7 separate regions of the Homo sapiens genome follow, and regions 1, 2, 3, 4, 6 and 7 are each linked to region 5. Evidence: fine-mapped QTL for protein levels in blood plasma. A gene starts in region 5. Each other region holds a variant in brackets. All regions are shown on one strand. Distances are between the middles of the regions.

Region 1 (4,301 bases), 1.2 Mb before region 5:
GCAGGTTCTGGGGTGGTGATGCATGCCAGGAGAAATGCTTGGAGGTGGCTTTCACCCAGATTGTTTGGACAGGGAGGGGAGTAGCCTGTTGTAATGCAGAAGGTAGATGTGTGCTCCTAGCTATGGTCTCATGTGCCCTGAGTTCGTCTCTTCTTTTTTTCTTTTTTTCTTTTTTTTGAGACAGAGTCACACAGGCTAGAGTGCAGTGGCGGGATCTCGGCTCACTGCAACCTCCACCTCCCAGGTTCAAGTCATTCTCCTGCCTCAGCCTCCCAAGTAGCTGGGATTACAGGCATGCGCCACCAAGCCCAGGTAAGTTTTGTATTTTCAGTAGACACTGGGTTTCACTACACTGGCCAGGCTGTTCTCAAACTCCTGGCCTCAGGTGATCTGCCTGCCTCAGCCTCCCAAAGTGGTGAGAGTACAGGCACGAGCCACCGCACCCAGCCCTGAGCTCATCTCTTCTGACCCACTTGCCCCTTGTGCTGGACGTTCCAGGCCAAGAAAGGGTGCTGACCAAAGGCCATAGGCCTTCTCTCTCCCTTTTTTTTTTTTTGAGATGAGGTCTTGCTATGATTTTTTGTTTGTTTGTTTTTTTGTTTTTTTGAGATGGAGTTTCACTCTTGTTGCCCACGCTGGAGTGCAATGGCGCAATCTTGGCTCACTGCAACCTCCACCTCCCAGGTTCAAGCGATTCTCCTGCCTCAGCCTCCTGAGCAGCTGGGATTACAGGTGCCCACCACCAAGTCTGGCTAATTTTTGTATTTTTAGTAGAGATGGGGTTTCACATGTTGGCCAGGCTGGTCTTGAATTCTTGAGCTCAGGTGATCCGCCCACCTCAGTCTCCCAAAGTATTAGGATTATAGGCGTGAGCCACCATGCCCGGCCAAGGGGTCTTGCTATGTTGCCCAGGCTGGTCCTGAACTCCTGGATTCATGGAATTGGCCTGCCTCAGCCCCCCAAAGTGCTGGGATTACAGGTGTGAGCCACTGTTCCAGGCCTACTTATCTTTTTTTTTTTTTTGAGACAGGGTCTTGCTCTATCACCCAGTCTGGAGTGCAGTGGTACAATCATGGCTCCCTGTAGCCTCGAACTCCTGGTCTCAAGTGATCCTCCTGCCTCAGCCTCCCCAGTAGCTGGGGCTACATGTGCATGCCACCAATCCTGGCTAATTAAAAAAAAAATTTTTGTTTCCTTAAAGATGGGACCTCGTTTGGTCTCAAACTCCTGGCCTTCAGTGATCTTCCCATCTGTGCCTCCCATAGCGCTGGGATTACAGGTGTGAGCCACCATGCCCAGCCTACCAAAATTTTAGAGAAGTGAACAAAAAGTATTGAGAGGGCTTAATGCTTGCATTTAAACGCTAACACTGAGGGACTCCAGAAAGACAAGCTGGCACTTCAAAAAGTGCCACTCTTTACTTCTTTGAAACCCTACCCCCTACTGAGTCTTAGACAGGATGAGGTCTGTTGGGTAATGTGATTTGATTCATTTACTTAGCACACGTGTGGGTCTCTCTTATGATGAGCATCAGGTACAGGGTTACTAATATTATTTGCTTTGCTTAATAAAGGAATAATTTATATACAGTGAAAGGTAATATGTATACAACTCAATTAATTTTAACTACATATATATTAATTTTTTTTTTTTTGAGATGGAGTCTCACTGTATCACCCAGGCTGGAGTGCAGTGGTGCGATCTCAGCTCACTGCAACCTCCACCTCCCAGGTTTAAGCGGTTTTCCTGCCTCAGCCTCCCAAGTAGGTGGGATTACAGGCATGCACTACCAATCCTGGCTAATTTTTGTATTTTTAGTAGAGACGGGGTTTCACCATGTTGGCCAGCCTGGTCTCAAACTCCTGACCTCAGGTGATCCTCCCACCTCAGCCCCCCAAAGTGCTAGGATTATAGGCGTGAGCCACCTTGCCCAGCCTTAACTACATATACATTAATTTTAACCACTACACTCTGTAGGTGTTTACACCGTAGACATTAGTGCCAATTGCCTGGGATTTCCCACTGACATCATTGCTGTTCTCTGGTTCTGGGGAGATGTGTAGTACCTAGATAAAGAAAGTTCAATGGCCAGGTGCATGGTGGCAAACACCTGTAATCCCAGCTACTTGGGAGGCTGAGGCAGAAGAATCGCTTGAACCAAGGACGCGGAGGTTGCAGTGAGCCAAGATCGCACCATTGCACTCCCACCTGGGCAACAAGAGTGAAAGTCCATTTAAAAAAAAAAAAAAGGGTCGGGCGCAGTGGCTCACACCTGTAATGCCAGCACTTTGGGAGGCCAAGGCAGGCGGATCACCTGAGGTCGGGAGTTTGAGACCAACCTGACCAACATGGAGAAATCCTGTTTTTACTAAAATACAAAAAATCAGCTGGGCGTGGTGGTGTGCACCTGTAATCCCAGCTACTCAGGAGGCTGAGGCAGGACAATTGCTTGAACCTGGGAGGCTGAGGTTGTGGTGAGC[C/T]GAATCGCACCATTGCACTCCAGCCTGGGCAACGAGAGCGAAACTCCATCTCAAAAAAAAAAAAAAAAGAAGAAGCAGAGAGGTAAACAGGCCCATATAGGGTAAGCACATTCAGAGAAGTAGGGGCAGAAAGTGGGAGAAGACCCCAACAATGTTGAAGGACATTTGAATGGGGAAATGAGCAAACAAAGTTTACATGTACAATCTCCAGCGCACTTTAGCCGCCCCACAGAGCTCACAGAGTTCTTGTGGGACAGTCCACACCCATCTGAAAAGCTGTATGCCAACACCAAGTGGCATTAGAAAGGTCTCACCATCTGCAGGGCAGAGACAGTATCTGCTGCTATGGTCAGTGGGGGGTCTCCCCAGGCCTCAGCTCTCCTGCGTGGCTTCTGATGCCTGCTGAGCACCATACCAGGCGCATTTAACCTTCTGTGTATACACCCAGCCCCACACTATGGGCCTAATAAAAGCTCTGAAATAATGCAGCTCAGATGCCACCCCCAGGAGGCCTTCCCTGACTCTCTTGGGGGAAAAGGGCTCATGTCCTCTTGCTATGTGCTTGCCAGACAGTGAGCACCCCCTGCCCTGGTCTGAGCCACTTCAGATTTCTCAACAGCAGGCAGCACTGGGTCTTGCCTTGGTTCTTGGTTTTGCTGCCAGAAGCCCACAGTCCCTTGGATACATGGCACTAGGGCAGGACTGCTGGATCCCCACAGAAAGCTGGATCCCTTGGAGTCCCACTCAGCTGAAGAGCCCCTGAGTTCTGAGCAGATAAACCTTCTTGCCCTCATGGTCTGTGGTGATTTAAAATATGCCTGCAAATTCTCTGCTATTTCCCCTTTCCAAGGTGGAGGCTGATTCCCTTTCCCTTGAAAGTGGGTCAGACTTAAATGACTCGCTTCTAGTGCACAGAATGTAGCAGAAGTGATGCTATAGAAGTGACTTCAAAGGCTTGGCTGTGAAGAGGTTACAGCTCCCTCCTACATCCTGACTCTTGGATCACTCACTACATGCTTCAGCCTCCCATGTAGCTGGGACCGCAGGTGCATGCCTCCATGCCCACCACTCACTCTAGAGGAAGTCAATCTCCACATCATAAGGACCCTGAAGCAGCCCTGTGGAGGAGCCCACCTGGTGAAGAAGCGGGATCTCCTGCCAAAGCCAGCATCAACTTGCCAGCCCTGTGAGTAAGCGACCTTGAAAGGGAATCCCCTGGCCTCAGCCAAGCCCTCAGATGATGCAGCCCTATCCAAATGCGATTGAAATTCTTGAGATTTCAAGCCAGAACCGCCCAGCCAAGCCATTCCCAAATTCCTGATCTGCAGAAACTGTGAGAGATAATCAATGTTTATTGTTGTAGTAAGCCGCGAAGATTTGAGGTAATTTGTTGTGAGGCAATGAATAACTAAGATTTTCCTTCTGCCCATTGTCCCTCTCCAAGCTCCCTACACTCCAGCCAAACTGAACCACTGACCAAAGCAACAAATTTTAGGCCCGGTGCGGTGGCTCATGCCTGTAATCCCAGCACTTTGGGAGGCTGAGGTGGGCAGATTACCTGACGTCAGGGGTTCAAGACCAGTTGGCTAACATGGAGAAACCCCATTTCTACTAAAAATACAAAAAAATAGCTGGGCGTGGTGGCGCATGCCTGTAATCCCAGCTACTCAGGAGGCTGAGGCAGGAGAATCGCTTGAACCCGGGAGGCAGAGGTTGCAGTGAGCCGAGATCATGCCATTGCACCCCAGCTTGGGCAACAAGAGTAAAACTCTGTCTCAGAAAAAAAAAAAAAAAAAAGCAACACATTTTTACTGAGTGCCT
Region 2 (4,301 bases), 1.7 Mb before region 5:
CCTGGCTGATGAGAATGGGACAGGGACTCCCTTCTCGTGTCCCTGTGCAGCGTCGGCCCAGGAGGTAGCAGAGCAGTATATGCACATCTGGGTGTGCCCTCCTGCATGTCCCCACACATCTGTCATTCCTGTCTTTGCACACCTATGTGACTCCCGCATGTTTGTGTCCTTATGTGTCCCATGCATGCTCCCCATCTGACCTTGCGTGTTCTCGCGTGTCTGTGTGCGGCCAGTCCTGCCTTCACTCTCTCATGGGTGGCCCTGGCAGCATGTCTGGCTCCCCAGCAGGTGAGCTCAGGAGATAAGATGGAAGATGCAACAGCCAATGGTCAAGAAGACTCCAAGGCCCCAGATGGGTCCACACTGAAGGCCCTGGGCCTGCCTCAGCCAGACTTCCACAGCCTCATCCTGGACCTGGGTGCCCTCTCCTTTGTGGACACTGTGTGCCTCAAGAGCCTGAAGAATGTAAGGACGGGGGCAGGCCAAGGCCCCTCGAGCTTCCACACTGACCCTGTAATTTGCCCTGAGAGCACTCCCAGCCTCTGACTCCCCAAACCCTCAAAGCTCCCCTTCTAAACTCCCTCCCCAAGCCTGCCCGAGCCCCCCTCTGAGTCCCTGAGCCTCCCTCTGAGGCTGGCCCCCTTTTCCGCTACAGATTTTCCATGACTTCCGGGAGATTGAGGTGGAGGTGTACATGGCGGCCTGCCACAGTGAGTAGGGTGGGAACAGCAGGAGGGACCTGGGAAGAGGGTAGGATACTTTTGGCCAAGGGGTTTTCCAAGTAGCACAAGGAAAAAGTCTTTCTCTGGAACTGGAGGTCAGAGGTGTCCTGGGAGACAGGAGTCCAGGGTTACAAGTGATGTGGATTCAGCTGTAGCCTCAGGGGTGGAGGTCAGGGGTGATGAGGTCAGGGCATTCTGTTGGCTCCCGGGAGTTGAGTTCCTAGAGGTTCTGAGAGTCAGGGGAGGCCTACTTCTTGCCCACAGGCCCTGTGGTCAGCCAGCTTGAGGCTGGGCACTTCTTCGATGCATCCATCACCAAGAAGCATCTCTTTGCCTCTGTCCATGATGCTGTCACCTTTGCCCTCCAACACCCGAGGCCTGTCCCCGACAGCCCTGTTTCGGTGAGCCTACCTCTGGCCTGCCAAGCTCTTTTTTGTTAATCTATTGCTTGTCCCCACCCTGGCCCCAGCTCCAGGGAGTCTTTCCTGGTGGCCATGGCTCTGTCCCCAGTGGGCCCAGTGCTTTCTCCGCTGTCTTTGGATAAAGCTGTTCTAGGGGCGGGGGTTGGTCTGTGTCCTTTGGAAACTGACTAGAGCCTCCCCTCCTCTGCCTGCTCAGGTCACCAGACTCTGAACATGCTACATCCTGCCCAAGACTGCACCTCTGGAGGTGCAGGGCACCCTTGAGAAGCCCCTCACCCCTAGGCCGCCTCCAGGTGCTACCCAGGAGTCCCCTCCATGTACACACACACAACTCAGGGAAGGAGGTCCTGGGACTCCAAGTTCAGCGCTCCAGGTCTGGGACAGGGCCTGCATGCAGTCAGGCTGGCAGTGGCGCGGTACAGGGAGGGAACTGGTGCATATTTTAGCCTCAGGAATAAAGATTTGTCTGCTCAACTCCAGTCTCTGCTGTGGCTTGGTGGGGCCCTGGTGGTGGGTGGTCCACAGCTGTGGCTGCTGACCCTTCCTGTGCCCTGAAGGTGAGACGGGGCAGAAGGTGTAGGAAGGACTCGGGAGGTTAGGGTACAGAGCAGGGGAGCTGTGGAGGCATCCCCTGTTAAGGTCTCTCCCCAGCCATGCATAGCCCTCACTCGCTGTCTCCTCAGATGTGAAACAGTTGGAACCAGAGCTGCTTCTCAGGAATAATTTGCTCTCAGGAATACCCGAGAAGGTACAGGGCAGCGTGGGTGCCAATGGGCAGTCCCTGGAGGATACAGAGTGAACACCTAGGAGCAGCTGTTCCCCCACACTGCTGCTCTATGCTTAAGAATAAGCATGACCGGGCCGGGCACGGTGGTTCACACCTGTAATCCCAGCACTTTGGGAAGCAGAGGCA[G/A]GTGGATCACTTGACATCAGGAGTTCAAGAACATCCTGGCCAACATGGTGAAATCCCACCTCTACTAAAAATACAAAAGTTAGTCGGGCGTGGTGATACATGCCTGTAATCCCAGCTACTCGGGAAGCTGAGGCATGAGAATCGCTTGAACTTGGGAGGCAGAGGTTGCAATGAGCCCAGATCATGCCCCGCATGGGTGACAGATCACCTGGGCATGGTAGAACACTGTCAGCCAAGGAGTGTGTGTTGATTTCTGCCATTAAATGCCGACATCTGGGCATGTGACCCAGCAGGCAGTGGGGCGTTGGGTCAGCTGACAGTGATGGCAGGGGAGGGACCGGGTCTTAGGATCTGTCTGGGCCTCAGTGTGCTGTTCATCGGTAGAGCGTGAGTGGCTACAATTCTTGCTTCAGGGGTTGCTCAGTGAATATTAAATGAGTAGATGCCGGGCCTATAATCCCAGCACTTTGGGAGGCCCGAGGCAGGTGAAACCCCATCTCTACTAAAAATACAAAAATGAGCTGGGCATGGTGCTGGACGCCTGTAATCCCAGCTACTGGGAAGGCTGAGGTGGGAGGATCAATTGAACCCAAGAGGCGGAGGTTGCAGTGAGCTGAAATCATGCTGGAGGGAGCTGCACTCCAGCTCGTGTGACAGAGCAAGACCCTGTCTCAAAAATAAATGAGGAAATGCCAGGAAATGCGAAAACAATGCTGGGCTCAGGTCCTCTCCTCCAAACATGCGAGCACTGCTGTTCATCAGGTGCTGAGCAGGTGCCAGGCTCTGTGCAGGGGTCTGGGCACCATCCTGAGCATGGACAGAGGCCACCCTGCCCTTCAAATCGCAGAGGTACCCTTGCCTGGCTCTGTTTTATCATGGTCTGTATTGGTGCCTGGCACCATCACCCCCCACCCCCCAACTCATGGCCTAGAAGTTCAGCCCCAGGAAATAAGAGCTTTTATTTACTCTGTCACACCACGTCCTAGCATCAGAAATGGTGCCTGGCAGCTGCTCAGTAAATATTGTTTGAATGAAGCTTATATGTTGGAGAGGGCAGTTTAGACCTCAAACAGGAAATTGCAGGTAGTTAGAAATGCTTTGAAGAAAATAAAGCAGGGTCACGTGATAGAAGAGGTCATATGTTACCCAAGATGCTCATGGGAGGGGGACTCAGCAGGTGACCCTGGAACTGAAATTCCAGCCATAAGAAAGAAGGTGACTTTCTAGGCCTGGGGAGCTGTGGTGCTGGCAGTGGGGGTATTGAGGCAGGCCTGTGGGAGGCAGGGGCAGCATGAGCTGAGGTGAGAGGGTGGGGGGACCTCACAGTCCAGGGGGAGACTTTGGGCTTTGTTCTGACAGCGGGGGAGCTGCCTGTGGATTTTGATCCCACATCTTTGAGCACTCACCCAACTGCGATGTGGACTGTGGGGCTGCGGTTGGGTGTGGGGGACCTGCGAGTTTGGTCAGCCTAGAGAGGTGATGCCCCTGGTGGAAAGCAAAAGGTTTTAGGGGCCGTGTGGATTTTTTTTTTTTTTCTTTTTAAATCGGCTCTTGCTCTGTTCCCCGGGCTGGAGTGCAGTGCTGTGATCACCACTCACTACAGCATTGACCTCCTGGGCTCAAGCGATCTTCCTGCCTCAGCCTCCTAAGTAGCTGGGACTACAGGTACATGCCACCACACCCAGCTAGTTCCCCCACCTCCCCCCACCCAAGACGGAGTCTCGCTCTGTCGCCCAGGCTGGAGTGCAATGGTACGATCTTGGCTCACTGCAACCTCCACCTCCTGGGTCCAAGTGATTCTCCCACCTCAGCCTCCTGAATAGCTGGGATTACAGGCACCCACCATCATGTCCAGCTAATTTTTGTATTTTTGTAGAGACGAAGTTTCACCATATTGGCCAGGCTGGTTTTGAACTCCTGACCTCAAGTGATCCTCCTGCCTTGGCCTCCCAAAGTGTTGGGATTACAGGGGTGAGCCACCGCACCCAGCCCCAGCTAGTTTTTGTTTGTTTGTATTTTGAGATGGAGTCTCGCTCTGTCGCCCAGGCCAGAGTGCAGTGACATGATCTCAACTCACTGCAAACTCTGCCTCCCGGGTTTAAGTGATTCTCCTGCCTCAGCTTCCCAAGTAGCTGGGACTACAGGGGTGTGCCAGCACGCCCAGCTAATTTTTTTTTTTTTTTGTATTTTTAGTAGAGACGGGGTTTCACCATGTTAGCCAGGATGGTCTCAATTTCCTGATGT
Region 3 (4,301 bases), 120 kb after region 5:
TTCCGTGTATGTAATGCATTGCTTCCTTGTTGCTGCTTTGAAGAGTCTCTCTTTGTCATTGTCTTGCAACTCTTTGCTTATAAAATTTTGAAATGTGCATATTTTCAAGTTTATTTTATTTGGAATTCATTGATGTGTAGATTCATGTTTTTCATCAAATTTGAGACATGGTAGGCAATTATTTCTTTAGATATCTTTTCTTCCCCCTTTCTCTCCTCTTTGCACAGAACTTCCATTATATGTATGTTGACATACTTAATGGAGTCCCACAGGTTTTTGAGGCCCTGTTTATTTTTCATCATTATTTTACTTTTCTGTCTTCCAGAGTAGATAATCTCAAGTGACCTATCTTTAAGTTCACTGATTCTTCTGCCAGCTCATGTTTACTTCTGAGCTCCTCCTGTGAATTTTCATTTCAGTGTTTGTAATTTCCAACTCTAGATTTTCTATTTAAAAAAATCATTTCTCTTTGGTAATATTTTTATTTTGCGAGATGGCATTTTCATACTTTCCTTACTTCTGTAGACAGCATACTTTAGTTCCTCAAACACATTTAAAATAGCTTACTTAAATTGTTTGTCTAGTAAGTTCAACTTCTGGGCTTCCTAGTGGCAGTTTCTTTTGACTTTTTTTCCCTGTTTTCCCACCCTTGGTACAGGCCATATTTTTTTGTTTCTTTGCATGTTACATAATTTTTTTAACAGAAACAGTTTAAATACTATATGTTGTAAGTATGGGAATCACATTCTCACCTTCCTCAGGTTTTGTTATTGTTTTGTTTTGTTATTGTTGCTATTTGTTGTTGCTGCTGCTGTTTGTTTGGTTAGTGACTTTTCTAAACTAACTCTGTAAGCCTCTTCTTTGTCATATATGGCCATGAAATCTCTGCTTGTTAGCTTTAGTGCTCAGCTAATAATTAGAGATTTTCTTAAGTGCCTTAAATCAACAAATTTTCCAGCCTGTGCTAAGGAGCTCTGTTTGTTGGGGCATGTCTACAACACTTCAGTTTGCCCTAGCATTCTTAGTTTTCATTTCTGACATGCATAGACATGTCAGAAGGCTAGCTGGAGGTGAGAGATTAGGGTCTTCTCAGGTCTTTCCTAAATATACATACAGTTCCAACATCTATGTCATATCTGAGTCTAGTACTGATTATTGCTTTTTCTTAGACTGTGTTTTTTTTTTTTGCCTTGTGATTTGCCTTGTAATTTTTGTTGAAAGTTAGACATTCTCCATTTCTGTTACTGTATCAGGAGATAACTAATATAAATATTTTCTATGCTTGGAGAAAAACACAGGCTTCCTTCTGCTTGGTGGTTATTACGGAGATTTGTGATACTCTAATCGGGAGTGGGCTGTGCTTTAATTTGTTGTTGTAGCTACCAGAGTTGAATTTTTTTGTGGCTATGGGCACCAGAGATTTAAAAGTCTGTCAGTAATACCTTGTTTTTGCCTCCTCCACTTGGCTTTTGGTCTTCTCTTTGTGCTGTTATCCTGGAGAACTTTGTAGCTCTTGCAGCTGAATGTGATACTATACCACTTCACGTTTAGGATAAAAAACTTATGACATATTTCTTTTTTCTTTCTTTTTCTTTTTCTTTTTTTTCAATTAGCTTTCT[C/T]AGGTTGAAAACAACATATTTCCCAGGCGCAGTGGCTCACGCCTGTAATCCCAGCACTTTGGGAGGCCGAAGCAGTGGATCACCTGAGGTCAGCCTGGCCAACCTGGTGAAACCCCGTCTCTACTAAAATACAAAAAATTAGCCGGGCATGGTGGTGGGCACCTGTAATCCCAGCTACTCGGGAGGTTGAAGCAGAAGAATTGCTTGAACCCGGGAGGCGGAGGTTGCAGTGAGCCGAGATTGTGCCATTGCACTCCAGCCTGGGCAACAAGAGCGAAACTCTGTCTCAAAAAAAAAACACAAAAACAAACAAACAAAAAACGCAAAAAAAACCCCAACCACACACACACACACACACACACACACACACACACACACACACACACACACACACAATGTATTTATATTTCTCTCTCTCCCGATCTTTGTGCTACTGTCATACATCTTCTTGCATACGTGTTACAAACCTCACTGTACATTGTTATTTTTGTTTAAATAGTCAATTCAATTATCTTTCAAAGATATTTACATAAAAGAAAAGTATCTTACATATTTCCCGTGCAGTTGTCTTTCCCAGCACTCTTCATTTCTTTATGTAAATCCAGATTTACGTCTGGTTTAGTGTTCCTTCTGTCTGAATGACTTTAACTTTTTTATAGTGCAGATCTGCTGGTGATAGTCTTTCATCTTATGCATGCCTGAAAAAAATCTGTATTTTGCCTTCATTTTTGAAATAAAATTCTAGAAGTTTTTTTCTTCTAGCACTTAAAAAATGGTGCTTATCTGTCTTCCTGCTTGTACAGCTTCTGATGAGAAATCTACTGTCATCCTTATCTTTATTCTTCTGTACTTACTTTATCACTGGTTTTAAGCAAGTTGATTAAGTTGTGCTTTGGTTTAGTTTTACACACACACACACACACACACACACACACATACTTGTTATATATATATATATATACACACACACATATATATACTTTTTTTTTCGATGGAGTCTCTCTCTGTTGTCCAAGCTGGAGTGCAGTGGCGCGATCTTGGCACACTGCAACCTCCGCCTCCCGGGTTTAAGCAATTCTCCTGCTTCAGCCTCCCAAGTAGCTGGAACTACAGGTGCATGCCACCACATCCAGCTAGTTTTCATGTTTTTAATAGAGACAGACTTTCACCATGTTGGCCAGGCTGTTCTCAAACGCTTGACCTCAGGTGATCTGCCCACGTCAGCCTCCCAATGTGCTGGGATTACAGGCGTGAGCCACCACTCCTGGCCTGGTTTAGTTTTCTTCATGTTTCTTTCTTTGGTGTTCATTGAGCTTACTAGATTTGTGGGCTTATAGTTTTTATCAAATTAAAAACGTTTGAACATTATTTCTTTAAATATTTTTGTCCAAATACTCACACATTAGGACACAGCTCACTGATGTTCTCTCTCTCTCTCTCTTTTTTTCTTTTAACACTCTCTGTTTCATTTTGAATTTTTTTTTTCTTTTTTGAGATGCAGTTTCCCTCTTGTTGCCCAGGCTGGAGTGCAACGGCGCAATCTCGGCTCACCGCAACCTCTGCCTCCTGGGTTCAAGCAATTCTCCTGACTCAGCCTCCCGAGTAGCTGGGGTTACAGGCATGCACCACCATGCCTGGCTAATTTTTGTGTTGGTCAGGCTGGTCTGGAACTCCCAGCCTCAGGTGATCTGCCCTCCTCGGCCTCCCAAAGTGCTGGGATTACAGGCATGGGCCACTGCGCCCGGTCAAATTTTTTTTAATTGTTAGGTTTTCAAGTTTACTAATCTTTTCTTCCACAAAGTTTAATATGTTACTAATCCCGTGAGTGTGTTTCTGACATACATGGTAGTTTTCATTTTTAGAAGTTTGATTTGGGTCATTTTTCATCTTAGATATCTCTCCTGAACTTTTTGAATATATATGTATATGTATAACTTAAAGTTATAATGACTGTTTTAATGCCCTTGCCTGTGCATTTAACATCTGTGTCAGTTTGGAGAGGATAAGATTAATTGATGATTCCCCTCATAATCAGTTGTATTTTCATGCTTCTTGCATGTTGGGTATTCTTTGATTGGATACTGGACATAGTGACTTTTACCTTGTTGGCTGTTTGATATTTTCATATTCTCATAAATATTCTTGAGCTTTGTTTGGGGATGCATTTAAATTACTTGGAAACTGTTTGATCTTTTCAGATCTTGCTTTTAAGATTTTTTAAGCAGGACAATTCTCAGTCTAGGCCTAATTATTCCCCATTGCTGAGGCAAGACCTTCCTGGATACTCTACCCAGTGCTCTGTGAATCTTGAGTTTCTTTGTCCAACTAATGGAAGCAGGCTCTATTCTTGGCCCTGTGTGAGCACCAGGCATTGTTACTTCTAATTCTTTTCAGTGGTTATTTCTCTAGCTTCAGGTCGTTTCCTCACAGACATGCACTGACCAATACTCAGTTTAATACTCAAGGGGGAGTATTTGTGTTGCTATAAAGGAATACCTGAGGCTGGATAATTTATAAGAAAAAGAGGTTTATTTGGCTCATGGTTCTCTAGGCTGTAAAGAAGCATGGTGCCAGCATCTGCTTCTCATGAGAGCTTCATGCTTCTTTTTCTCATGGCAGAAGGCAAAAGGGAGCTAGTATGTAGAGATCATATGGCAAGAGAGGAAGCAAGAGAGGGGACAT
Region 4 (4,301 bases), 70 kb before region 5:
GTTTTCACCATATTGGCCAGGCTGGTCTCGAACTCCTGACCTTATGATCCACCTGCCTTGGCCTCCCAAAGTGCTGGGATTACAGGCGTGAGCCACTGTGCCCGGCCAGCAGGCAGTTTTTCATGGTGCAGGGTCATGCGGGACCCTGTACCACATGGTGGACCCAAGTTGCCTTGTATAATCCTCACATGCCCCTGTTAAAGTAGTGCCAGCCCCACTTTGACAGGGGAGGAGACAGAGCCTCAGGGAGGTCCCACCACTGGTAAGCAGTGTGTCCTGATGTTCCCACCACCTGCCCAGTCCAGGGCTGCAGGCTGGGCTTCCTGCATACCACAGTGCCCCTACAGGGAGGACCCTGGAGGGAGTTTGGAGCCAGGCCAGACTTCCCAGAGGAACTCGTCCAGTCTGGCTGCATATGAAGGAAGGGGAAGAGACTGGTCTTTGCCCTGCCCTCTGTGTGACCTTTCAAGAGGTTATTTCCTGCTGGGGCCAGTGTGGGTGAAGTCTCAGGGCAGTGGGAGGGGCCTTTTGCATACTAATGGTTCTGGTTGTTCCCTCTGCTCTCTTCCCCCTCCGTCCCTCTGTCCCCACTGTCACTCATCCTTTAAGGTGACACTTCCTTTGGAAAGCCTCTGTAGACACCTCTTAATGCCACCCAAAAAAACACTGCCTTCCCTGGCTGTTGACACCTTCCCTTTTCCCCTGTGGGTCACCACCCCCTTGAGAATCTGAAGAGCTCCAGATTTCTCATCCACTAAGATTCACCTTCTCACACTCGCCTGTGTTTCTGTCTGGTCATTGACCTCTGGAATCTGTGCACCGAGGATAAGAACCCCTGCCCTGCTCTGTGGGCACTAGGTGCCTACTCGTTCCTCTTCCTCCTCAGTACCCAGCATGGAGTATCTGAGTACAGCATGGAGTACCACAGGGGAGCCAGTCAGTATTTGTCGACTGATAAAGTCTGCTGGAGGAGCTCTGTAGTGCCTCCCTTGAGCACTTGCAGCAAGAATAGGATCAGAGTTGACTTGGGCTGGCTCCCCACACTCCTGACAGACACATGGAGGATATCTGGGCAGGGCCGTGTGACGGGCCTGGCGAGGAGCTGCACTAGGCATGCCGTGGCCTGGCCCTTGAGGTGCCATATGGATGGTGGGGCCCAGCGTGCCTCTCTTCTGAGTGGAGCGGGCCCTCCTTTCCACCGCTGAGGGCACCTTGACAGGTGCTATCCCTTGGCACCAACCTTCGTCAGGCCTTGGGTGTCAAGCCTCACCGTTAGAATGCCTGAAGGCTGCCACACCCTTTCTCTTTGTCCCCTAAGTGCCACCACCTTTTTGTCAAAGGCGCCTTCCTTCCCCCAGTGAGTCACCAGCAGAACCTCAGTTGTTTCTGCTCCTCCCTGTCTCCCCACAGCGTTGAGGCACCTCCTTGTTCTAGTCCACCGCTGTTGACCTAGTTCCCGTCCTTATCTCCAGTCCTTATCTCTAGCCTCGCTGTTCTCCCAGCCTCCCGCTCAGCGCTTTGTTCTTGCTCTGCTCAGAAGCCTTTAGGGAACACATGAACCCACAGGAGAGCAGTGGCTCTTAGCTAATCCCAGCCTCTTGGATGGTAGTCACCACCTGTTCCTGCTGACTCTTGGTGAAGCACTGAATGGGGAATCAGATCTGTCTACACTGCACAGATCATCTGACGTCATCTCCTAATGTCTTGGTGAAGCAGGTATTACAACACTGCCCTGTCTGCTTACAGGATTGCTGAGAACATCTGATAAGGATGATGGGCATGGGAGCTTCCCATGACCTCTGCAGAGGCACACCGTTCTGGGCCTGTGCCCCGCTGGCTTTTCTGCAGCCCTTTCCTTCCTGCCCTGGCCTGATTCTCCCTGTTCTTCAGGCTCCCTAAGCTGCAGGCTTTTCTCCTTCATCATTTCCTTGTAATGGTGATATGATGTCAGTATGATTATCCTCATTTTTGTAGATGAGGAAACTGAGGCCAGACAGGTCATATAACTTGCCCAAGGTCACACAGCCAAGATGAAATGGAGCTGGGATTTCCCCGCTCCTGTGCACTCCTCTACCACAGTGCTGTGCCTGCTGTAGTTGGTGTCAGGCCTGTGGGTGCAAACTGGTACAACAAA[C/T]GTCTGCCCTCTAGGAACTCTTGGTCTGGTCAGCAGATAGAGTGGATACTCGGACCAAGTCATCCTAGCAGCACATTGAGTGCAGGGGACCCAGAGTGAGGAGCTCTGCAGCCTGACGAGATCTCAGCCTGCCCAGGAGAAGCAGAGTCTCTCCCCCTTTCCCCCTGCCAGTCTCTGGGCAGTAGAGATCTGTGCAGTTTCTGGTCCCAGGCATGGTGGTGTTCAGCTCACTTCTTATCACTCCATCTTCAGGGTGAGTCAGACTCCGGGTGACTGCCCTACCCGCTAAGTGCCCTTGGAACACAGCTCCCACCACGGCAGCACCCGACAGGAAGTCCCTCCACCCCGGCATGGGGCTGCAGTGGCCCTGAGGATGGGCACAAGGTGACACTGGGGAGCCTGCCAAGTTTGCCCCAGCATTGTCTGTCTCTTCCTGTCACCTTCAGGCACTATGTGCCCATCTCTTTTGCTTTTTTCCCCACCCTGGGCCCAAATCAGAACTGGAAAGGCTCAAAGTGGGGCCAGTTTGGCCTCTTCTTAGGGGGCTAGGATTTCGAGGTCTTATTTTCTCTTTAACTTTTGAACAGAGGGCAGTTTCCCATGGACATTATAGCAGGCGTACTCAGAGCTAATGGGGCATATCACCTGGGGATTGGAAAGTGTTTCTGTACCCATGAGTTCCTGGTGAGTCTCTAGCTTCTTCAGGAAGCTAAAGAAGGGTGGGAAGACCCTAGATGAGAAGTTGAATGTCTCTCTCTTAACCCTTTCCTGCTTCTCTTATTTCCTTCTGGAAGGGAGAGCTCTAGTCAGCAGCTCCTAAAAGTTTGAGTCCTTGGGAAGTCTTAGGGAGAGGGAGGGGCTTATTCCTCATCCCCTGAACTCAAGTCCTCCTGCTTCGGCACACCCGCCCCCAGTGACAGTTCCCAGCCCTCATTTTAACTTTAACCCCCCTCCCAAACACAGACACACAGACAGCAGCAGGCTGGGGCAGGTCCAGGCTGGGAGTGGAGGATCTCACCTGACTTCTGGTCTTCCCCGTTCCTCCCATGACACATCTTGTAGGCTACCACAGTGCCCGTTCAGGGTGTCGGCCCTCATGCTGGGCTCAGCCCTCCCACGGTGCTGGAGGAATGCCCTGTGAGCCCTGCCCCTGACAGCATCAGGTGAGGCTGGGCCAGCCATGTGGGCCTGCTCTGCAGGCTGTGACAGTGCTCTTGCTCCGCTCTCATGTCTTTGTAGGCAGTTACCACTCCCAGGAATGCTCTGCCTTCTTTAGCTGCCTCATAATCCCCCAGTGGACATTTAGAATTGAGTTTAAGCATTACTTCCTTCCCCGACAACACCTATCCCTTGCTAATTCCCTAAGTGTACAAGATATTTAGTAAAGCTTTCCTTACTACTCATGGCACAGAGTTACATTTTCTAAGTCTGATCCTTTGAGTAGACTTGAGATTCTTGACGATAGGGTTCTTACTTTATCTTTGTGCCCAAGGTAGACCTGGCCCACAAAGGAGACTGAGGGGTGCAAGGAAAGAGATCTTCATCTTACTGTGGGTGGGAAGGGGCAAGAGGAGGACATAGAGCAGCCTCTCTTCTTCCTCCCTCCTCCTGTAGGCCTGGTTGTTGATTGACCTGCTTCTAGCAGTGGTACTACATTCAGACAGCAATGTGGATTGATTCTGCCCCCACGCTTCATGTGCCATCCAGAGGCAGGTGTACTCATCCATTGAGGGATCCTTCCAGAGAGAGGTGACTGAGGAGCAAAGCCATTGTTGAAACACCGAGTCTGAGGAGATGAGATGGAGGCACGTCCCAAAATTGATAAACCTCTAGCTGGTCTGATAAAGAAAAATGACACAAATTATCAATATCAGTGAACATCACTACAGATCTTACAGACATTAGGCTATTAAGAGAACAATATAAGTCACTTTGTGCCAGTAAATTCAATAACTTAGGTGAAACAGACATCTTGAAAGACATAAATTAATAACACTGGCTGGAGAAGAAATAGAAAATCTATACAGTCCTATAACAAATATTTTCCCAAATAAAACTTCAGGCCAAGATTGCTTCACTGAAGTCTTGTTGAACATTTAAGGAAGAAACAATACCAACTTTGCACAGCTCTAATTTTATTTGTAACAGTTTTGTCCCTGATAAAAAG
Region 5 (4,301 bases):
CTCAGCCTCTCATGTAGCTGGCACCACAGGCATGAGCTACCACACCTGGGTAATTAAAAAATTTTTTTTTTGTAGAGACGAGGTCTCACTTTGTTGCCTAGACTGGTCTCCAACTCTTGGGCTCAAGCAGTCCTCCTGCCTCGGCCTCCCAAAGTGCTGGGATTACAGGCATGAACCACCGCACCTGGCCTATGCCTCTGTTTCTAAGTGTCTCTAAGTTTTATGGTTCTGTGACCACTGATCTTCCACCCTGCTTTCCCCCTTGGTGATGAGAAAAGAACATTAATGGAGGGATTGGAAGGACTGAGAGATAAAACTAGAGGCTGAGGGGAGGAGTTCTTTTCAGATCTGACACCAGGGAAAACTTGAGATTTGGAAACATACTACTTGTACTTGGGAGGATGAGGGTGGGCTGTGGAGAGGGCTGCAGAGAGGAATCTGATGGGTGCTGGGTCCCTTAAGGGCATTCCTCCTGCCATAACTCATGTGCCTCACCCCAGAGTCCCCTGCTGGACATTCCACAGCTGTGGGTGGGGCCACAGATCATCTCTCTCACCCTCGGGCCTCTGGTTAAAGTGCTACCATGAGGGTGGGGGTGTCACACATTAACTGGTAGCACCCAAGCACCTGGCAGAGTCAGCTTGCCCTTTTTGACAAGCACGCCCCAGGGGCTCAGAGTCAGTTTCTGGTTAGTGTCAGGTCAGTGTTAGTTTCAATGGGGTTTGAAAAGGCCTGGCTGGGGGTGGGGAGTAGGAGTGAGTCCCTGTCTCTAATCCCCAGGCTGGGGCCTAGGAGGAGGAGCCAGGGTGGTCACTGGATCTCAGAACTGCAGTAGGGGCCAGACTCTGGCCCCACCCCTGCTGGTGTGGCAGCCCCAGGCTGACAGGCCTCTGCTGCAGCCATCCCACCGTGAGTAGGGCTCTGGCCAAGGTACACAGACCCTGGGGCCAGGGTGGGCATCAGACACCAACAAGCAAGGCAAGAGGCTCAGCTGTCTGAGCAATGCAGCCTGGCCTTCCTCCCTCAGAAAACCCCTTGGCCAGACCAGGGGTTCTCTGGGACTAATGGCTCACATCTATTTCTGAGTCCTTATATTTCCCCAGTGCTTCATCCCAACACTAGCCCCAAAGTCAGGCTGCATCCAAGCTTAGCCCTGATCCCAGACTGAGCTCTATCTCCATCATGAGCCCCAGCCTCAGGCTGAGTTCTTATCCCAGTCTGATTTCTAGCCCCTGGCTGAACTCTGACCCCAGGTTGTGCCTCCACCCAGCCCTCAACCCCAGACCTCTCTCGGCTTCTAGGCCCCTCTGGAAACTTTTTGAGGCAAGAGCCCAGTAGGGGAGGGGATGGCTAGGCCATAAGTGAAGCGAGGTGCCACTTTTACAGCCATTTCGGCTGCTCATAAACACCCCCTGACACCCAGCTGAGTCGCTGGAGGCTCCCATGGCAGCTGGCTGGGTAGCCCCCTTCCCTTGCAGCAGAAGCATGGCTGCCTGGCTTTCTTGCCTCTCAGGAAGGTGAAGGGAGGGGCGATGGGGGCACCTGGGGCCAGCAGGCTCTGTCCCAACCAGGGAGCACTCCTAAGGCTCCCAAGGAGCTAGAGGTATGGGCTTTCTGTCCCTGCTGGCCTCATGGTTACAAGCCCCCTGCTGTCATAACACCAGGTCCACAGATGTGTCTCCATGCGGGCATGTCTTGTCTGCCCCATAGCACGGCCCAGGTATTTAGACACTCACCCCCAGGGAAACCACAGACTTGGGCTTCCCAGCTGTGCTCAGGCCCCTAGGCTCCCCTGGCCCCCACTCACCTGCAGCCCATGGGCCTTCCAAGTCGGGCCTAAAGCTGCAGAGCAGACTCAAGTTGGCCACGGGGAGGCCATGGATAGTCCCTGAGCAGCTTCTGTGGCTCAGGCCTAAGCAAGGATAGTGCTGCTGGGGACAAGAAAAGACCTGAGTCAGAGCTTCCACTTGAAAAGAAAATTAATTATTTTTTACCAAGCCCTACACTGGCCCAGGACTTTGTCCCAGGCTCCTAGTCAGGAGTAGGAGGCAACAGAGGCAGATCCAAGTGTGCCGGTGTTCAGATGCCCAGGGCTGGGCCCTCCCCTCAGCACCCATGGGTCTGCCTGCCAGGTAACTGGGCCCACTCAGGCTGCCAGACACGTGTGTGTGCCTCAATAGTCCTCTCCTTGCCCTGCCATGCCTCTCTCTTAGTCTCTGTGTCCCTGTCTAACCCTCTGGTCCTTTCCACATCTCAGGAATATCAGGCTGCCACGAGGTATGAACACAGCCCCTACTAGTGACTTCACTCAAGTTTAAGGCACCCAGAGAAATCAGAGGGGGGCTGGAGGTGGTTCTTGCCTGTGTCACAGGCAGGAAAACTGAGGCCCAAGAAAGCCTGATCTGCCAGCACTGGGTACCCAGTGGCTCCTAGACGGAAGAGATGGAGGGGGCCGTCATTCCACTCCAGCCCGTGTCCTGACCCCTACAGCCCCACAGCCACCTCATATCTGACTCCTTGCCCACTGGAATGTGGGCTCCTGGTGAGGAGTCAGCCAGGAAGCCCTCCCTATCTGCCTCCCAGGCCCTTCCAGGCCCAGGGTCTGCTTAAGCTGTCACAGGTCTCAAAGGCAGGGGGCTGTGGACAGGATGACTTCTCTCTGTGGGTCTGTAGAACGAGCTGTGTTCAGAACCAGGGCTGGTTGCTCAGGATGAAGATGTGGGCAGACAGGGAGGCAGAGACCCTGCAAGATCCCAGAAACCTCACCCCCAGGCCCTGTGACCCGGCTGGAGGCTGCCCTTCTGCCTGAGCCCAGTCTGAGCTGGTTTGTGTCTGGAAGTCCTAGGCTCAGCCTGATGAGGTATAATGATTCACGTGGCAGCTGCCACTCAGCACATTCCAGCTGTAGCCCCCAGTGCCCTGCATGTGAGGCAGCTGGCCCCAACCACCCCCAGCCATTGGGCACATTCCTAGGGCCCCCCTCCCTGGGTCTTCCAGGCTCCTGGGGAGGGTACCACTCATTAGAGTTTCCAAAGTACTTTTTGTTTCACAAGTTAGTCAGGGAGGCAGGCTCGGTGATACCTGGCCTCCAGGTGGAGGAAACGGGACCAAAGAGCAGAATGGACTGGCCAGGGGACATAGTGAAACTATGACAAACAGCACTTATGGGACTCCTGCCCCAGCTACTCTGAAGTGCACTGCTCCAAGGGGTATCCTGGGACACGTAGGCTATTCTGTGACCAGGCCAGCGGAGGTCAGTGGGCAGTTGTGCCCAAAGGAGGGAGAGTTCCCCTGTGCTCTGTCAAGCCTCCCTGTTGCCCTGGCTCTTGACTGCCAGAGCCTCTACCTCCCCTGAGTCCACATGCACTGCCCTACCCTGCCCACAGGCCCCATCCTCACTGGCCAGGGAAGCAGGAGGCTGGGGCCTTTTCTGCTTTGACCTGTGGATCCCTGAGCCAGACGCCTTCCTGCTCATGGCCTCAGTTTCCTGATCTGTTGTTAACAGTTGGGCAGTTTCAGGCTCAAAGGGGATCTGTAAAGTGCCCAGGCACTTGGGTCTTGGATGCAAGCAGACCTGGGAGTCTGAAAACCTGAAGGCCTTTCTCTCCTCGAGCCTTGGGCCTGCCAGTTTGCGTTCCTCCTGTGGGCCCCAGCCCAGGGCTCTGGGGGGCAAGTCTGGCCCTCAGCTCCGGGGACAGGAAGTTGTATTTTGGTCCTGGGTTCTGGGGAAGAGGTAGGGGGAGAATGGCAGCTCAGACCCAGCCATGTTTACTCGGGCCCGGCCCCCTCCGAGCTCAACAGGCTCCCATTCATTGGGAGACCCATAAACCCTTTGGGGCTCCCTGAGGTTCAGAACGCCTGGATGCCAAGGCTGGATGCCGCCCCCAGACCTGCTGGGAGCTGTGGGCAGCAGGTGGGGCATGAGTGAGGCATAAGTGGGATGGTGGGTGGGAGCCTGAGACTCGCCTGAGTTTCCAGGTATTTGCAGCGTCGTAACAGTTCTTGCCCCATGCACATTGTGGAGCAGTTGGGAAATCCAGGGAGGTGGTGGAGGTTGAAGGGTTCCTTCCATGGCCACGAGGCCATCAAAACTGATTTCTCTTAGATCAGGCCCCAGAAGGGTGTCTCCTCAGACTAGGCTCCTGAGGGCATGTCCTCAAATTGCATGACCCTCAAGGCAAGGCTGAGACTGCTGTGTCCAAAGCGGAGCTGATGTCCTTGCTGAGGCTGCATACCTGGCCTTGGGTTGTTGACAGTCCACTCCCTGGCAGTGTGGGCATGGGCTTGCATCCCACTGGAGT
Region 6 (4,301 bases), 590 kb before region 5:
GCCTGGCCAGCTGTTAGAATTTTGATAGGGATTGCATTGCATTTTGATATGGATTGCGTTTGTAGATAGCTTTGGATAACGTTGTCATTTAAAGAATATTGTCTTCCCAGCCTGGCCAACATGGTGAAACCCTGTCTCTACTAACAATACAAAAATTATCCAGGTGTGGTGGCATACACCTGTAATCCCAGTTACTCAGGAGGCTGATACAGGAGAATCGCTTGAACCTGGGAGGCGGAGATTGCAGTGAACCGAGATTGTGCCACTGCACTCCAGCCTGGGTGACAGAGCAAGACTCTGTCTAAAAAAAAGAAAAAAAAAAAAGAATATCATCTTCCAATCCATGAAAGTGGGAAAGTGGGATTTCTTTCCCTTTATTTTACGTCTTTAATTTGTTTCAGCAATGTTTCAGTTTATGTCTTTTGTCTCCCTTGCTTAAATTTATTCCTAAGTATTTTATTCTTTTTGATGCTATTATAAATGGAATGTTTTCCTAATTTTGTTTTTAGATTGTTCACTGTCAGTGAACAATAGAAATGCAACTGATTTTTGCATGTTCATTTTGCATCCTACAACTTTGTTGAATTCATTTATTAGCTGTGTGTGTGTGTAATCTTTAGGGTTTTCTACATGTAAGATCATGTCATCTAGGAACGGAAATAATTTTACTACTTCCTGTCCAGTTGAGATGCCTGGAGAGAAAGGGTAAATGAGGCAGTGAGAAGGTTCTTGCTTAATTTCTCTGGCTAAAACTTTTCAGTACTGGATTAAATAGAAGTGGCATCCTTGTCTTGTTCCTGATTTTAGGGGAAAAGCTTTTAGTCTTTCACCATCAAGTGTGATGTAAGCTGTGAGATTTTCATATATACCCCTTTATTATGTTGAGGATATTGCCTTCTATTCCTATTTCATTGAGTATTTTTTAATCAAAAAGTTATCTTGAATTTTGTTAAATGCTTTTTCTGCATCAGTTGGGATGATCATTGTTTTTCTCCTTCATTCTAGTAATGTGGCATATTACCTTAATTGATTTTTGTTAAACCATCCTTGCACTTTGGGAATAAATTCCACTTGTCATCTGAGATGTATGTTTAATATCTACTTTAAAAAAAAAAACACAAATCAGTCCCAGCCTGGGCAACATAGTGAGACCCTCATCTCTACAAAAAATAAAAAAAGCCTGGTGCAGTGGCTCACGCCTGTAATCCCAGCACTTTGAGAGGCCGAGGCAGGCGGATCACCTGAGATCAGGAGTTCAAGACCAGCCTGACTAACATGGTGAAACCCCGTCTCTACTAAAAATAGAAAAATTAGCCAGGCTTAGTGGGAAGCGCCTGTAATCCCAGCTACTCAGGAGGCTAAGGCAGGAGAATTGCTTGAACCTGGGAGGCGGAGGTTGCAGTGAGCTGAGATCATGCCACTGTACTCCAGCCTGGGTGACAGAGCGAGACTCTGTCTCAAATAAATAAATATTAAAAAATAAAATAAAATAAATTAGCCAGATGTGGTGGCTCATGCCTGTAGTCCCAGCAGTGTGAGAGGCTGAGATGGGAGGATCACTTGGGAGGTTGAGACCGCAGTGAGCCACGATTGTACAACTGTATCCAGCCTGGGTGACAGAGCAAGACCCTATCTCAAAAATAAAACAAAAAACCAAAAAACTTAGAAGTCAACAGATGCTTATTGAATTCTTCCTAGGTGTCAGACACTGTTAAAGTTCTGGGGATTCAGCAGTGAACAAGGC[T/G]AAGCCCCTGTTTTCTTTTAATTTTTAATTTTAGTTTTTTTTTTAGGGACAGTCTCACTTTGTCACTTAGGCTGCCAGGCTCGAGTGCAGTCATGCATTCTCAGCTCACTGCAACCTCTGACTCCTGGGTTCAAGTTATTCTCGTGCCTCAGTTTCCCATGTAGCTGGGATTACAGGCACTACCACACCCAGCTAATTTTTGTATTTTTAGTAGACACAAGGTTTCACTATGTTGGCCAGGCTGGTCTCAAACTCCTGACCTCAAGTGATCCGCCTGCCTCTGCCTCCCAAAGTGCTGGGATTACAGGCACGAGCCACCGCACCCCGGCCCACTGGAGTGTTTTGAGCAGGGTAGTGACATTAGTGATTTGTGCTTTAGAAAGATTTATCGAGGATGGAATGAGGCAGGAATGAATAGAGGCATTCCTGCTGTCCCCATGGTCAGTGATGGGAGAGTAGCCAGGGAGATGATGATTGTTGGTCAGGTTGGGGATCTGACTTGGAGGTAAAACTGTTGTAACCAGCTGTTTCAGATGTGGGCTTGTTGTAGGATGTTTCCTAAACTTTCCGCCGGAGGAATAAACAGGGTAGCTAGTGGTATAATTAACTGAGATGGCTGGGAAAGAACAGCTACTGTGGGGAAATCAAGAATTCTGTTTTTGGTCTTGTTAGATTTGAAGTGCTTATTAGGCATTTGAGTGGAGATACCAAGTGGAAATAGTGTAAATAAGGAGCTTAGGGGAGAGGCTTGAGAGGTGTGTATGTAAGAGACATCAGCAAACAGATGAGAATTGGAGCCAGGAGTCAGGCTGAGAAGCCCTGGGGAGAAAGGGTAGATGAGGAAAGCAGGCCAGGAACAAAGCCTATGGGGAAGCAGGAAGGGAGGCTGAGAAGCACAACCTTCTAGGACATCAGTAGGGACATGATGTCACTCACAACTAGGAAATAAGTAGGTGTTTTCCTTTCTTTCTTTCTTTTTTTTTTTTTTTTTTTTTGAGACGGAGTTTCGCTCTTATTGCCCAGTCTGGGGTGCAATGGCGCGATCTTGGCTCACTGCAACCTCCGCCTCTCAGGTTCAAGCGATTCTCCTGCCTCAGCCTCCTGAGTAGCTGGGATTACAGGCATGTGCCACCACGCCCGGCTAATTTTTTGTATTTTTAGTAGAGACGGGGTTTCACCGTGTTAGCCAGGATGGTTGTAGGCGTTTCTCATTTCAGCATAGTGTCTTTATGGTCAGCCCTTTCAGTGGCTGCCTCTGATGGTGTTTGATCATAAGTCATAACTCATCCATGAAGGTGTTTTACAGTCTGTCTTCAAGCAGGCAGGTCCTTAGATTGAAAGAATGGAGGCTTCACTGCGTGTGCCTTTACTACACAGATAGCCGATGGGGCAGAGGTTGTATAGCTGATGGGGCAGAGGCTGTCAGATGACTGTTTTACAGAAAAACCTTTGACAAGTTATATAGTAAACTTGTTAAAAGAAAAAGTTGATCTCCTAGCTAAGACAAAAGGTTTCAGTTTAGGAAGATAAAAAAGATGGATGGTGGTGATGGCTGCACAACAATATGAATGTACTTAATACCACTGAACTGTACACTTAAAAGGGGTTAAAATGATGTTTATGTTAATAATTTTTTTTTACCACAAAACGAAGTAGAATACTTTGTCACTGATTATAGTAAACATTTAAATCTGAATGCTAGATTGCTTTTTTTTGAGATGGAGTCTCACTCTGTCGCCCAGGCTGGAGTACAGCAGTGTGATCTCAGCTCACTGCAACCTTTGCCTCCTGGGTTTAAGTGATTCTCCTGTCTCAGCCTCCCAAGTAGCTGGGATTATAGGTGCCTGTCACCATGCTCGGCTAATTTTTGTATTTTTAGTAGAGATAGGGTTTCACCGTGTTGCTCACGCTGGTCTCAAACTCCTGACCTGAAGTGATCTGTTTGCCTCGGCCTCCGAGAGTCCTAGGATTATAAGAGTGAGCCACCGTGCCCGGCCTAGACTGCTCTTACATAGGTTAAAACACATTATTTTGTTGGGAGGTGCTGGGGAATCAACTCTGTCATGGAAATGTTCCCCGGGCTGGGAGTTGGAACCAGAGTGTTGATTGTTGTCATTTGCTACATGACCTGGGTCATCTGGCATGACCTTCCCTAAGCCTCAGTTTCTTCCTTACCAATAGGATATTGTGCTGGAGGATCCCATCTCTCCTAGCTCTGAAATCTGGTAGCTTTCTGTTCCTTTGTCTCTATAAATGTCTGGAAGGCAAGCAAGTTCCAGTCTGAGAAGTGACTGTGAACATTTGGAAGAATTGTGTGGTCCCAGTGCATATCACAGTCCACAGTTGTCCTGTTAGCTGGAAAGTTTTACTTAGTACCAGATTATAGATATGAAAAAGAAGCAATTAAAACTTACAGCAGGCCTTACAATTTGAGACAGAAACAAAATCTTTGTTTTTTAGACTTTGACCAAATATTTGGGAATGAGCACCATGTAGATGTGATTTGTTTATCTGTGAGGCTTCACACATTGTGACTTGACAAGAACCCATAGCACTT
Region 7 (4,301 bases), 600 kb before region 5:
GCCTGGACAACAGAATGAGACTGTGTCTCAAAAAAAAAAAATGTTGTGGGAGAAGCCCAAAAATCATGTCCACTTCATTATATTCCATGGGGGGCATTCTGTAGCAGATTTACCAGGGCCCCATAAACCCCAGCTTCCCCAGAGGCTCCACAGGATTCTCAGTGGGTTCTCTTAGGGCAGTGGAGGATTGTTTGCCATGCTTCAAGGCACAAAGGTACTTAGCTAGGTGCTTGTCAGTTTTGGAGCCTCTTATTTTTTGTGGGGGAGTGTCCAGACTTCACTGAGGGTCAGTCCTCTGCAAACACAGCTTTGATGGAGTGGTTGGGTGGGAAGAGGTGGTGAGTGAGGAGAATGACAGCAGTTCCCAAGGCAGTCTGGCTAAGTCCTGCCATGGAGGTGGTTAAAAGACAGGCTCCTGACCCTCTCTGGAGAGAAGACTTTGGTACAGTGGGCCCAGGGCTCAGGAGGACTCCTTCATGCCCAAGGTTTCTGAGGGGACAAATGATGGTATTTCAAGGGATCAGACCTGGAGAGAGTGATGTCAGGATAGGTAAGGGGTGTAGGTAAGTTCCCCTGAATGCTCTCTATTGTTGCTTCTCTCTCATTTAATACAACAAACAGGATGGGCACGGTGGCTCATGCCTGTAATCCTAGCAGTTTGGGAGGCCAACATGGGAAGGCTGCTTGAGCCCAGGAGTTTGAGACCAGCCTGGGCAACACAGCAAAAGACCCCATCTTGATAAAAATAACAAAAACAAAAATGGCATGGTGGCGCTCATCTGTAGTCCTACCTTCTTGGGAGGATCACTTGAGCCCAGGAGGTTGAGGCTGCAGTGAGCTATGACCACACCACTGCACTCCAGCCTGGGTAAAGGAGTGAGACCTCAAATGTAAAAATAAAAATAACCTAAAAAATTCTTTCTTTCTTTTTTTTTTTCTTTTTTTTTTTGAGACGGAGTCTCGCTCTGTCGCCCAAGCTGGAGTGCAGTGGCATGATCTCGGCTCACTGCAAGCTCTGCCCCCCGGGTTCATGCCATTCTCCTGCTTCAGCCTCCCGAGTAGCTGGGACTACAGGCACCTGCCACCACGCCCGGCTAATTTTTTTTTTGTTTGTTTTGTATTTTTAGTAGAGATGGGGTTCCACCGTGTTAGCCAGGATGGTTTCGATCTCCTGACCTCATGATCTGCCCGTGTTGGCCTCCCAAAGTGCTGGGATTACAGGCGTGAGCCACCGCGCCCAGCGAATACTTTCTTTATAGGATCAAAATTCCCATATTAAGCCAAAAGACAATGCTGAAAATGTCATAACCCTGAAAGTCACTTTGGGCCAAGGCCCACTGTCCCCATTGTTACTTTCATTGTGACAATAGTGTGGTGGGCAAGGAGGGAGGCCAGAGTCCGGTGGGAACTGGGTTTTAGGAGGAGGTATCTGAAGAATGTGTAGTGGGTCGGGGGCTGGTGCGGTCAGAAGGGCCACCTCTAATTTCTGCCTTGCATTGGTGACTAGATCTGCACTTTCTGGAACTCCCAGAGAAGTTTGCTGGTGCCTTTGAGGGCAGGTACAGGGCCTGCCTTATCCAGGTAGCCCTGGGGTGGGTGCGGGTGTCTCGGGCAGTAGGCAGGGGCTGAGGGGAGGCTTACCTCTGACACAAGACCTGGGTACAGCAAGGGCATGCAGTAGCATGATCAAAGTCCCCCCAGAGTGGTCCGGGCAGCGTCTCTAGTTGGGCCAGAGCTGGGCAGGTGGG[G/A]ACCTGTGTTTCCCTCGAGGGGAGGCAGCCTCCCCTTCCCCTTCTGTGAGGCCCTGTAACAAGACCTACCTCGGATTTTCAGGAGGGCCAAATGCGAGGACATGTACAATACCAGCTCCGCAACTGACACCTAGTAAACAGTGAACGTAGCTGTTGCTATTATAACAAATACCTGTTCCCTGTGGAAAATGGTTAAATGTCAACTTATGCTTTTAAATGTCTATAGGGAAACTAGTTTTATGGACATTATTTATTCTTCTCATCTGCATTTGCAGTGTATCTCGGCCCAGCTGCTTCTAATTTTTTGCCATTATAAAACAGGGAACATGAGCATCTTGTGCAGGGTGGGTTTTTTGTTTTTTGTCTCACTGTGGCCTCGACCTCCCGGGCTCAGGTGATCCTCCTACCTCAGCCTCCTGAGTAGCTGGGACCACAGGTGCGCGCCACCACAGCCGGCTAATTAATTTTACTTGTGGAGACGGAGGTCTCCTACGTTGCCCAAGTTGGTCTCTAACTCCTCGGCTCAAGCGATCTTCGCGCCTTGGACTCCCACAGTGTTGGGATTACAACCGCGAGCCACCGTGCCCGGCTTTCTGCAAGTTCTTGATGACCGATGAGAGCCGGTGGGCCCAAACCCGGCGGGCCCTAACCCGGCTTCACGCTCCGCCCGGCCCGGCCCGGCCCGGCCGTCCATACTTCCCTCCGGTGTCCACCAGAGGGCGAACGGGAGACGCGAATGTGGTTCGACTACGCATGCGCACGCCGCTGGGCGCACGTGCGGAGGGCGGCGGGGCGGGAGGGTAAAGGTAGGAGGTGAGAGGTGAAGGGGCGGGCACCCGGCGGCCAGGAGAGAGAGGGAGGGCGCCACGCACCGGACTGCGGGCCGAGAGCGCGCACGCCGCGCTCCGCCCCTGCTGCCGCCCCCGTCGCCGCCGCCGCCGCCGCCGCAGCTTGGGAGGTGCTGCCACCACAGGTACCGTCACGCGGGTGCTCAGGGCGCCTGCCCGCGGGCCCCAGCTCGACCCCAGCCGCGTGGAGCTGGGAGTTCCGGAATGGGGGCCGCTAGGTTCGGGGGTGCGTGGGCATGGCGCTGTCCAGCAGCCGTGCGGGCCGGCCCTGGAGACCGCAGGCCGGCAAGGAGGCAGGGCCGCGCGTCCCCACCCCCAACCCGGCCGTGTCCCTGCACCGGCCGGCCCCTGGAGCTCCGCGTCCCCACCAGACCTCCGCGGGCCCCTGGTGTGACGGGGGGAGATGCGCGGCGTCGCATCCCCTGGCCTAGTTGCTCCGGGAAGCTGTTGTAGAACCTGCTTTGGTGCTGTTTGGGTTTTCCGGAGTGCGGGGGAGAGCAGGTTCTCCACTTTGCCTCTTTTGGAAGATCTTATTGAGAGACAACGCTAGTTGCTTTGCTGGTTTTGCTTGGTTTCTAGTTTTCCGTATTGCTTAAACCTCAACTTTGCTCACTAATGTTGCTTCTGTTTACTTCTGAGTGGGTTTATGACCTCAGTATTTAACCGGCTTATAATGTCACGATAGCGTTAGTTGCAGGGAGCCCTGGCTCCGGACTGTTTGAATCACAGAAAGTTGTGCAGATGGGAATGCGGAGGGGGGGGCAGTGAGTCGCTGTGGGGGCTCTGGCAGGGGTCAGCCCCTGGTTCGGGTCACTCACTGCTCCACCTTGTATGGCGACAGTCGGAGCTAGGTGAATAAACTCTTTCTGGGGATTTTGTAATACTTATCGTGAAGCGGCCATAGAAAAGGTTTAATGTTAGCGTTGCGTGTGTTTCTTTTATTTGGCCAAAAATTTGTGGAGTTTGGTTATGCCGTGTCTTTATTGGTTTGCTGTCAGGTCAGGATATTGAGCAAAAGACTGACGCTTTTATTAGGGAGTCAGGGTCGAGGGTGTCTAGTTAGTGCTGTATCCATTTTAGGTGTTCCTCAGTGATGCCTAAAGACTTGTTTTTTGTTTGTTTGTTTGGAGACAGGGTCTCACTCTGTCTCCCAGGCTGGAGTGCAGTGGCGCGATCTCGGCTCACTGCAGCCTTGATTTCCTGGGCTCAGGTGATCCTCCCACCTCAGCCTCCCCAGTAGCTGGGACAGCAGGTGTGTGCCACCACGCCCGGCTAATTTTTGTATTTTTTTGTAGAGATGGGGGTCTTGCTGTGTTGCCCAGGCTGGTCTTTAACTCCTGGGCTCAAGCATTATACAAGCCTTGGCCTCCCAAAGTGTTGGTATTACAGGCGTGAACCACCGTGCCCGGCCAAGACCTGTATCTTTTAAAATGTGTGTTAATATAGTTTACATTTTAGGTGTTTTACACATTTGCAGTATTCCCACTGAGCACATGATGTAAAAAACACTATATAAATATATTTAACACTGTATAAATATATTTCCATATTTATTCTTTTGGTCATAAATTGAAATGGAAAGAATTAGGCTTTTTAAATTTATTATGAACTGATCTGATGTTTGAATGCTCTCTCTTTTCTTTCTTTCTTTTTTTTTTTGAGATGGAGTCTCGCTCTGTCGCCCAGGCTGGAGTGCAGTGGCGCC

Alleles and levels. Positions count from the first base shown, and alleles are read on the strand shown. Strength reflects both the effect of a copy and how common the allele is.
With allele T in place of C in region 1, the plasma level of the protein whose gene starts at base 1,930 in region 5 is higher (strong association).
In carriers of allele A in region 2, the plasma level of the protein whose gene starts at base 1,930 in region 5 tends to be higher than with G alone (moderate association).
In carriers of allele C in region 3, the plasma level of the protein whose gene starts at base 1,930 in region 5 tends to be lower than with T alone (moderate association).
For the plasma level of the protein whose gene starts at base 1,930 in region 5, allele T in region 4 goes with a lower level than allele C (moderate association).
For the plasma level of the protein whose gene starts at base 1,930 in region 5, allele G in region 6 goes with a higher level than allele T (strong association).
As copies of A replace G in region 7, the plasma level of the protein whose gene starts at base 1,930 in region 5 goes down (moderate association).

Evidence for each region. PIP is the posterior inclusion probability: the model's chance that the variant is causal. The UK Biobank Pharma Proteomics Project read protein levels with antibody pairs (Olink). The fine-mapping took linkage between variants from a reference panel, not from the people measured, so its PIPs are less certain.
Region 1: its variant is fine-mapped to the plasma level of the PTH1R protein (UK Biobank, PIP above 0.99).
Region 2: its variant is fine-mapped to the plasma level of the PTH1R protein (UK Biobank, PIP 0.98).
Region 3: its variant is fine-mapped to the plasma level of the PTH1R protein (UK Biobank, PIP above 0.99).
Region 4: its variant is fine-mapped to the plasma level of the PTH1R protein (UK Biobank, PIP above 0.99).
Region 6: its variant is fine-mapped to the plasma level of the PTH1R protein (UK Biobank, PIP above 0.99).
Region 7: its variant is fine-mapped to the plasma level of the PTH1R protein (UK Biobank, PIP above 0.99).

What each region holds. Positions count from the first base shown.
Region 1 is chr3:48,124,663-48,128,963 of GRCh38, reverse strand. No RefSeq gene overlaps it. Among named protein-coding and RNA genes, the nearest start is that of CDC25A, 62 kb to the left of the region's middle. The variant C/T (reference allele first, on the strand shown) is at 2,481.
Region 2 is chr3:48,623,040-48,627,340 of GRCh38, reverse strand. It overlaps SLC26A6 (solute carrier family 26 member 6), which reads left to right. Exons shown (of 21, transcript NM_022911.3): 18 at 286-465; 19 at 656-710; 20 at 987-1,123; 21 at 1,341-1,618. The coding sequence ends at 1,355. Among named protein-coding and RNA genes, the nearest start is that of TMEM89, 3.4 kb to the right of the region's middle. The variant G/A (reference allele first, on the strand shown) is at 2,058.
Region 3 is chr3:46,760,064-46,764,364 of GRCh38, reverse strand. No RefSeq gene overlaps it. Among named protein-coding and RNA genes, the nearest start is that of PRSS50, 44 kb to the right of the region's middle. The variant C/T (reference allele first, on the strand shown) is at 1,620.
Region 4 is chr3:46,945,553-46,949,853 of GRCh38, reverse strand. The region is part of intron 1 of CCDC12 (coiled-coil domain containing 12); the gene reads left to right. Among named protein-coding and RNA genes, the nearest start is that of CCDC12, 29 kb to the left of the region's middle. RefSeq lists a silencer at 1,321-1,615. The variant C/T (reference allele first, on the strand shown) is at 2,135.
Region 5 is chr3:46,875,350-46,879,650 of GRCh38, reverse strand. PTH1R (parathyroid hormone 1 receptor) reads right to left here and starts at 1,930. Exons shown (of 16, transcript NM_000316.3): 1 at 1,808-1,930. It also overlaps a transcript of MYL3 not described here.
Region 6 is chr3:47,461,192-47,465,492 of GRCh38, reverse strand. All of the region lies in intron 1 of SCAP (SREBF chaperone), which reads left to right. Among named protein-coding and RNA genes, the nearest start is that of SCAP, 13 kb to the left of the region's middle. The variant T/G (reference allele first, on the strand shown) is at 1,745.
Region 7 is chr3:47,474,219-47,478,519 of GRCh38, reverse strand. SCAP (SREBF chaperone) reads left to right here and starts at 2,579. Exons shown (of 23, transcript NM_012235.4): 1 at 2,579-2,721. LOC105377073 (a long non-coding RNA gene) reads right to left here and starts at 2,575. Exons shown (of 3, transcript XR_940821.3): 1 at 2,156-2,575; 2 at 1,818-1,878. RefSeq lists a silencer at 2,492-3,031. The variant G/A (reference allele first, on the strand shown) is at 1,749.